Linked DNA regions of Homo sapiens: all the other regions are linked to region 1. The links come from fine-mapping of genetic effects on gene expression. A gene starts in region 1. Each other region holds a variant in brackets. All regions are shown on one strand. Distances are from middle to middle.

What was found.
Region 2: its variant is fine-mapped to the expression of MRPL20-AS1 in putamen (GTEx, PIP 0.98).
Region 3: its variant is fine-mapped to the expression of MRPL20-AS1 in whole blood (INTERVAL, PIP 0.99).

The regions. Positions count from the first base shown.
Region 1 is chr1:1,398,086-1,400,833 of GRCh38, reverse strand. It overlaps MRPL20-AS1 (MRPL20 antisense RNA 1), which reads right to left and starts at 1,304. Exons shown (of 3, transcript NR_015434.1): 1 at 1,145-1,304; 2 at 531-676; 3 at 1-229. CCNL2 (cyclin L2) reads left to right here and starts at 1,499. Exons shown (of 11, transcript NM_030937.6): 1 at 1,499-1,815; 2 at 2,163-2,237; 3 at 2,492-2,601. The coding sequence starts at 1,528. RefSeq lists an enhancer at 18-561 and silencers at 947-1,006, 1,297-1,536, 1,607-1,786.
Region 2 is chr1:1,436,753-1,439,500 of GRCh38, reverse strand. VWA1 (von Willebrand factor A domain containing 1) reads right to left here. Exons shown (of 3, transcript NM_022834.5): 2 at 2,017-2,574; 3 at 1-420. Among named protein-coding and RNA genes, the nearest start is that of VWA1, 2.4 kb to the right of the region's middle. The variant C/G (reference allele first, on the strand shown) is at 1,399.
Region 3 is chr1:1,334,226-1,336,973 of GRCh38, reverse strand. TAS1R3 (taste 1 receptor member 3) reads right to left here. Exons shown (of 6, transcript NM_152228.3): 6 at 1,660-2,748. The coding sequence ends at 2,510. DVL1 (dishevelled segment polarity protein 1) reads left to right here. Exons shown (of 15, transcript NM_001330311.2): 15 at 459-1,696. The coding sequence ends at 832. Among named protein-coding and RNA genes, the nearest start is that of MIR6808, 4.1 kb to the left of the region's middle. The variant C/T (reference allele first, on the strand shown) is at 1,367.

The DNA.
Region 1 (2,748 bases):
CGGTTTGTGCCATAGTCCTCCTGTTCCCAGGCGGTCCCAGGGCCTGCCCCTGATGGGCTGGAGGCACCACCAACCTCCCACTCCTCTGGCAGTCACAGCTCAGGGAATGGGCAAGCAGCACCAATGAGAAACCAGCTGTGTGGTGGGGTTTCCAGAGAAGAGGAAATTCCTTCTTTCCTGGAGAGCGTGCAGCTGTAACTCACAGACGAGACATCCCTGAGCTACCAGCCTGGGGAAAGAGGACATGAGTAAAGCTGTAACCATACCGTGTTACCCATAACAGGCGGTGAGGAGAGTGGGTTTTGGTTGGCACTGTTTGAGCTGCAGTATCAAGTCATGGCAGAGCTAGTGGACAGCTGACCTGGGGGTGGGGGTGAGGAGCAATGGTGGCTTCTGAATTTGAGCCCGTCTGAGCTGGGCAGTTACTGGCAGCTCAGTGTGTGAACCTGCAACCACTCAGGCCTCTGCTGCCCTTCCCTCTTCCTGCCTCACCGTTCCCTGCCCCACGCAGGCTTCCCCACCATCCTCACCCGTGGTCCTGTACTAGTCCTGGCAAAGGTTCCGGTAACTGCAGCAACAGATACCTCCTGCCCCTCCTGCACAGCTGTGGTCGATCGCAGGACAGCCGCAGGTGATGAAAAACCGTGAACCCAGGACGGGCAGGGCGTGAGACCGCCTGCGGGAGGATCAGCGATGTCAAGACGTTACAAACGCACGAACCCCCTCGCCGTCTCCCTGGCGTTTGTGAGGTCCTGTCCAAGCTCCTTCACACGTAGATCACCGGGCCTCGCTCCCCCGACTCCTTCCGTGGGCCTGAACCTTGAGGTACTTAGGCCTCCCCACGCTGGAGGGGCTCTGTAGGGACGTCGAGGCCACGTTTCCAGTCATCCCTCCACCCGTCTCTCCCCAGGGGCTGAGTGTTGAAGGCAAGACTTTGCAGGAGTCTGGCGTTAATACGCATCCCCAAAGTCTGGAGTCGATAAGGACTGAAGACACGACGCCGACGGCGGCCGGGGGACACCGGGCATGCGCGTCTCATCCAGGGGGAGGCCGAGCGGAGCCTCTGACCCTGCCCCGCGCCCAGGGTTCAGCAGTGGGGGTCGTCCCGCCCCAGATCCCACCGAGATGGCCCCCCTTGACCCACAGGCCTTTCGAGACGCGAGCTTCCGCGATCCGGGGTCTCTGTGCGAACGTGGGCATCTTGGAAGAGTCCCAGCCCCGCTCGGGGCGCACAGGCAGGCGCTCTCAGCACGGCACCCGCGCCTCCGCTAGGGACAGACATGCTTCCGGGTCGGCCGGCACCGCGGAGTCCCCTGGGTAACGAGCCCGCCCCACCCGCGCCAGGTTCCGGCGTCGGCGTTAGGCGCGTTGCTGACGGGCAGGTTATGTAGCCAATTGCGGCTAGGCGGCGTCGCGCTGGTCGCGGGCCGAACCAATGGCACGCGACGGGGCGGGGCGGTGGCGGCCGTGGAGCTTCGCGAGGAGCCGCCCTGAGGGAAGAAGCCGAAGGGGAGTCGGCGGCACAAAATGGCGGCGGCGGCGGCGGCGGCTGGTGCTGCAGGGTCGGCAGCTCCCGCGGCAGCGGCCGGCGCCCCGGGATCTGGGGGCGCACCCTCAGGGTCGCAGGGGGTGCTGATCGGGGACAGGCTGTACTCCGGGGTGCTCATCACCTTGGAGAACTGCCTCCTGCCTGACGACAAGCTCCGTTTCACGCCGTCCATGTCGAGCGGCCTCGACACCGACACAGAGACCGACCTCCGCGTGGTGGGCTGCGAGCTCATCCAGGCGGCCGGTATCCTGCTCCGCCTGCCGCAGGTGAGGGCGCGGCCGCGAGCCTCCGGCCCAGGTAACCGCTGGGGCGGCAGCCGCCTTTGTTGGCGGCGAGTCGGGCCCGCACCGCCCCCGCCTAGACCCCGACCCCAGCCCCTGCCCCGACCCCAGCCTCGGCGCCATTCCCTAGCCAGCCCATGCCCCTGACCCGGGGCCTCCCCGCCCGCCAGTGCGCTGGATCCCGAGACGGCGGGACGCGAAGAGCCTTTGTGGACGTGGGAAGCGTTTCAGTGTTTGGTTCTGCGTGGGGAGTCCCACGTTACTCGATGACTTTCGGCCGCGAAGGCTTTGAATGGTGCGTTTGAAAATACGGAAACTTTCTTCTACTCTAGGTGGCCATGGCTACCGGGCAGGTGTTGTTCCAGCGGTTCTTTTATACCAAGTCCTTCGTGAAGCACTCCATGGAGGTAAGGCTTCCTCCTGCACTTCATTCCCAGCGAAGTATGTTGAGGGTAAAACGGTTTGTTACTTTGCCCGGTTACTAAGGGAGTGAGTACTTGCCCCCCAGTCTGAGCTCTGTGCCGGAGGGTTCTGTTTCTTGACTTTTTTTTTCCCCTGGGTGCACCTCCCTTTTGGTCTGAATAGCCCTCAAGCCTTTGGCGGCCGTCAGGACGCCGTGGCTGGGGACAAACATGGGCGTGTTGCAATGCTTCCGCTTCAGCATGTGTCAATGGCCTGTGTCCACCTGGCTTCCAAGATAGAAGAGGCCCCAAGACGCATACGGGACGTCATCAATGTGTTTCACCGCCTTCGACAGCTGAGAGACAAAAAGTGAGTCAGTCAGAGCTGTCTAGTCTATCATAGATGCCTATTTTCTTTATTTCTGATTAAGTTACAGTAAGGCTTGTATAACACAATACAGGCCTGAGGCTCTAAACCTGTGGGATATTCATGAGCGCAGTCTCAAGCTCCACCAAC
Region 2 (2,748 bases), 39 kb before region 1:
TCACGCGGAGGCTGCGCGGCCGGGCGTGGGAGATGACGATGCGCTCTGGCCCGGCCTCCTCTGGGGCGGGGAGGGCGGCGAGCTGCGTGGGGGCCGGCCCAGCCCCCGACTCCGGGCCCGAAGCCCCCGGCCCTGCCTCACCGGGCCGCGTGCGCACCCGCAGGATCTGGGGCCTCAGGAGGCGCACGTTGGACTCAGGCACTAGCGCCACGTCGTAGTCCGTGTCCGGGTCGAGGCCGGCCCAGATCCAGTCCGTGGCGTTCCCTGGCAGCTGCTGGCGTCTTGCAGCCCCCGGCTGGGCGCTGGGCACCAGCTCCAGCACATAGTAGCCCGAGTCTGCGGTCAGCAGGGGTGGCCAGGCCAGGCGGAAGCCGCTGGACGTGATCTCCGTGGCATGGAGCTGCTGCGGCCGCATCGCGTCTGTGGGTGGTGCAGGGGGTCAGGGAACAGCGGTCAGTTCCTCCTCCGCTGCTGGAGGGCGGCCCTGGCTGATGGGGAAGATCTGGAGATTGGAGGCCCCACTAGGAAAGACGGGGCCCCGCGGCCAAGGAGCTGCTGGAGCCATGCCCCGCAGATGCTGGGGATTCTCAGAACGTGCCTTGGCTGGGGGAGGACGGAGGAAAGGGTGCAGCCCCCTCAGGCCCTGTCAGAAGCGCCCCTGCCTCCCTTAGCCCCAAACCCAGTCCTTTGTGGAGAGGTGCAGTGGCCAGATCAGTGACCAGGACAAAGGTCCTCAAAGACGGCAGAGTCCACGGTGGTGCCTGAGAGCAGAGGACCAGCCCCAGCCTGAGTGGCCAGGCCGGGGTCTGAGGTCAGCCCGGCTCTCTGAGCTGCAGCTAGGAGATGGGAGACCACAGGGGCAGGCCCTGGGGTTCTGGAGGCGCTGCCTGCCCTGGGTCCCCAGGAGAGTGTGGGGTGGGGTTCTCCAGAGGGGGACTCCTGGACCTGTGACACCAAGCCCCACATAGCCCTCTGAGTGACCCTGCTGTGGCGAGGCTCATAAATGTCTGCGCTGGGTTAAAGCTATCAGGATCTTCCTCCTGCAGTGCTGGGTGCCTGGGCCACTTTCTTCCCATCCCCCACCCTCAGACCCGGCCTCTTTCCCAGGAGCCCCCACCCTGCTGCCTGGCCCCTCGGCACTGCAGCCTCAGGCTTTTCCTTTGGCTGCTTAAGGCAGCCTTTCCTCCTGGTCCCCTCCAGGCGCAGCTGCACTGGGTGACCTGGGGCCACTAGGGGCCAGACGTCCCTGGGGAAACCTTGGGGAGGGCCGTCCACCCCTCTCCAACCCACAGTCCAACCCCTTCCGGCTCTGGGTGGATGATTAACCCACAGACGGAGACTTGGTGAGATCCCCAGGGTTGGCATTTTTCAGTGGCTGCAGCAGGCTGAGCCAGTGGC[C/G]GGTTCCTCATCTCCAGCCCCAGCTCCTTCAGGGCTTGGCTGGGGCAGGGAGGTCCAGAAAAAAAGCCAATGGGAGCTGCTCAGCTCCTGCCTCAGGCCTTCCCTGGTCCGGCCTCTCAGGAAACCCTCACAGTGGGCCTGCAGTCCGAACTAGTTCAAAGCCCTCGGCGGCTGTCCCCACCCAGGAGAGGTGCCCTGTGCTCTCTGGGGGGGCAGTCCCTGACCTTTCTGGCTCACCCCTCTCCAGGTATGGTGGGCATGCTCAGGAGCACATGCTGCCCATCTGCAGAGTCCCCAGACTTGGAAGCTTCTTCCTGGGCCTACACCCGGGCTCTGCACTCCCTGGGGCCTCGAGGTCTGGGCTGGACACATCAGCAGGGAGCTACACCTGGAGGTGGCTACTCAAGCCTGCCCCCGTCTCAGCAGGGTACACGGGTCGCCCAGTGAAGAGTGTGCATAGACAAGCTGCATCACTCAGCCCTGCACCCTAGGGGTACCACAGCCCCGGAGGCCCTGGCCGCTGCTCTGGGGACATGAGATCTTCCCAAAGTCTCAACCCAGCCTCTCCTTCTGCGGCTCCCAGCTAGGGCTCCCTGGGCCCTGCCTCCTCCCGCATACCGAGAATGGAGCCCCTCAGCTCTTGGACAATGATGTGCAGGTCATCCACGTCCACAAAGTGCAGGTGCTTCTCGGCAGGGGCTGAGGCAGCGGCTGACAGCTCCAGGAAGTTGCCTCGGCCGGTGCTGACAATGAACACGGTGACGCCCAGGTCCTTGAGCTCCTGCATGGGGGGGCCCACAGGGTCGCTGGAGCCGCCATCTGTCACCCACACCAGCACTTTGGGCACCCCTGGCCGGGCACCTGATGCTTCAGCAAACAGCTGTTCCTTGGCATAGACCAGCGCCAGGCCAGTGTGGGTGTCACCCATGCGCTGGGCAGAAGCACGCACCGCATCCTGGGCAGCCTCACCCGAGCTGTGCTGGCCGAAGGGGAACTCGGTGTATGGCCGACTGCCCACGTGCACCAGACTGGCACGCAGGGCCCCGGTGCCCAGGGGCAGTGGAGCCACCAGCTGCCCCACAAACTCCCGAACCCGGGAGAACTCGTAGTGAGAGACGCTGGCTGAGCTGTCCAGCAGGAACATCAGGTCCCCTCGGGGGGCTGATGCTGGTGGACCTGGGGGAAAGGAGGAATGCTCAGCCTCAGGTGTGGGCCCCCCAGACAGCCCCACAGCAAGGCAGGGTCCCCCAGGGCCCCAGCTTTCCTTAAGTGGATGCTTGCCTTCTCCCAAAGGTCCTAGGTTGGGGGAAAGAGGAACTCTAAGCAAGAGGCCTGTACTTTTGGGGGTTT
Region 3 (2,748 bases), 64 kb after region 1:
AGCCACGCCCTCCAGCTCCCACTGCGTCTTGGGAGCCCAGGACAGGGCTGAGCTGAGTCATCCGTCGGCCAGGGTCCTGGGCCGGGGGGACAGTGGGGCCTTGGGTGGGGAATCCAGGATGGCCACGGGGGCACCGGGCATGAGGGGCCCTCGCTGGCACCTCAGTCTTTCAGCCGCAAGACCAGGCCCTCAGCTCAAGCATCGGGGTGAGGTGTGGGGGCGCCCAGCTTGCCCCAGGACCCTGCCTGCCTCCCACTGCCCCCACCAGCCCATGCCTGCCGCAGCTGCCCCTGCGACCCTGGGGGTGCCGGCCCTGTCCTCGCGCCTGCATGGCTGCCCCACCCACCCGTCCTGCACGGGCCACCGTTCCTGCCCGGTCACCTGGCGGGGGCGGTTGTTCTGGACGTGGCCGGGCCTGGTGCTGACAGGCTCCTTCCCCATCCTGTTCTCACTCCCAGGGAGCAAAAGCAGTGGGTCCACCCGGAGCAGCCGCCGGGCCCCGGGCCGTGAGAAGGAGCGTCGGGCGGCGGGAGCTGGGGGCAGTGGCAGTGAATCGGATCACACGGCACCGAGTGGGGTGGGGAGCAGCTGGCGAGAGCGTCCGGCCGGCCAGCTCAGCCGTGGCAGCAGCCCACGCAGTCAGGCCTCGGCTACCGCCCCGGGGCTCCCCCCGCCCCACCCCACGACCAAGGCCTATACAGTGGTGGGGGGGCCACCCGGGGGACCCCCTGTCCGGGAGCTGGCTGCCGTCCCCCCGGAATTGACAGGCAGCCGCCAGTCCTTCCAGAAGGCTATGGGGAACCCCTGCGAGTTCTTCGTGGACATCATGTGACTCGTGGCGCATGCCCCAGCCCTGCCTGAGGTGGGGAGCTGGCGGTCCTGCCGCATGCAGAGCTCGCGTGGGCTTGCCTTCGTGGGGGCCAGGACGGGAGGCAGGGTGGGGGGCAGGCTGGACCACCACCATCTGCCCTGGCAGCCTGGCTGCTCCAGCTCCTGACAGCACCTGTGTCTGAGCAGCCGTGTTGGGGGCGCTCCCTCTCTGCCCCTCAGCGAGAGCCTCGGACCTCCCAACCCCTTGTGTCTGGTGGGGATCCCTCCTGGGATGAGGAAGACCCCCTCGGGCTCTCGGCTGACCCCCACCTCCTGCACAGCTGTGCCCAGGCCCCCAGGGTGGTCCATGCGGGGCAACCCCCTGCGGTGCACAGGCCCCCTGTCTGGAGTAGGGATCTAATTTATTTATTTATTGCCTGGCCGGTGACTCGGGGGAGGAGGCGACCCTGTCATCTGTCCCACCTGCTGCTGCCCCTTGGAGCAGCCTGCACCTTCTCTCCTCCCATCCGGCAACAGTCTGAAAGTACGTGGAGGA[C/T]GGGACCGGAAGACGAGAGAGGGCTGGACATCCTGCCCACCGTGTCCCAGCCAGGGCAGGGAGGGACCATGGCCCGCAGGGTCAAGGGGCCCCGATGTGCACAGCTGCCACAGGGAGGGAGGTCTTGGGGAGATGGGCAGTCAGGTGGCCCGTCCTTGGTGAGTGCACACACTGCGCGCACACATCGCGGCCTTCCTGGCTTCTCTGGCCCCCACGTGTCTGTGCTGTAGATACTGTATCAAAGTCCCAGCGTTTAGATGGTTAACATAGAGCTGCTTCTGTGTAAATGCTGCTTATTTTAAACACTAAAAAGCGTTTAATTTTATGGGACAGATGTGTGGCCTGTGCCCCTTCTCTCCGGCTGGGCTGCCTTGGAATGAGGCACAGGGAGCTGGTCCAGCCTCCCCTAGGCCCTGCTGGGAGCTGACCCTGGGACTCTGACCGGAGACCCTGTGTGGGCCTGGCGGCGTGCTGGCGTCAGATCCTGGTGGGCAGTTTTCTGTCCATGGTGCTGGCTCCGGGGTCCTGGTGGTCGGTGCTGGCCGTGGTGCTGGACCCCGCCCCCACCCCACCTGGGCTCTGTCCCTGGTACTGGTGACAGTCATGATGCTGTCTACCCACTGGGCAAAGGGCAGAGTAGGAAGCTGGGTGCCACCCCTACCTCGGCGGGCTCTGCCCTGGGCATATGCCTGTGTGCCCCCACCTGGCCTCCCACTGCTGTGGTGCCTGGCAGGGTGCAGGATGGGGGCCCTGGTGGGACATGGTCAGGTCGGCAGGGCCTGATTTGGGCTTCCAGCCATCTGGCCGGGGCCTCCCTGCGTCCTTTTCCTGAGCTCACGGTGTGGGTTGCGGGTACCCTGGGAGCCCTCCGGGCCTCTTTCCAGAACAGTGGGTCTGGGTTACCTGGGCAGGCCTGGTCTGGGCACAGAGGGACAGGGACACAGCTTGGCTCTGGGGCCCAGATGGTCACAGGGGTGTCCACGTGCTCCAGGCCTAGGGCTCACTGTGGGGTCAGGGTCAGGAGACAACCTGGGGTCAGAACCTAGAGCGGGAGGGTCTCTGTAGCGAGACACGGGTCATTGCTGGCTTGGGGGGGATCGCAGCTAAGTCTGGGTTCACCGGGGCTGAGATCACAGGGTTGGGTCACTCATGTTTCCCCTGATTTCCTGTGTTCCCGTCATTCTGGCCTTGGGCATCCCCAGGGCCCCCTCCCAGGAAGAACTCGGGGGTGTTGAGCCCTGGCTGCCGCATGAGCAGGTAACACCTGGGCAGGTGGAAGGCAGCCAGGATGCCCAGGACACAGAGCAGGAGGGCGCCCATCTGCACGGCGGGCCTGAGGACCACCTGCACATTGGCCAGGAGGGGCACAAAGGAGACCCAGG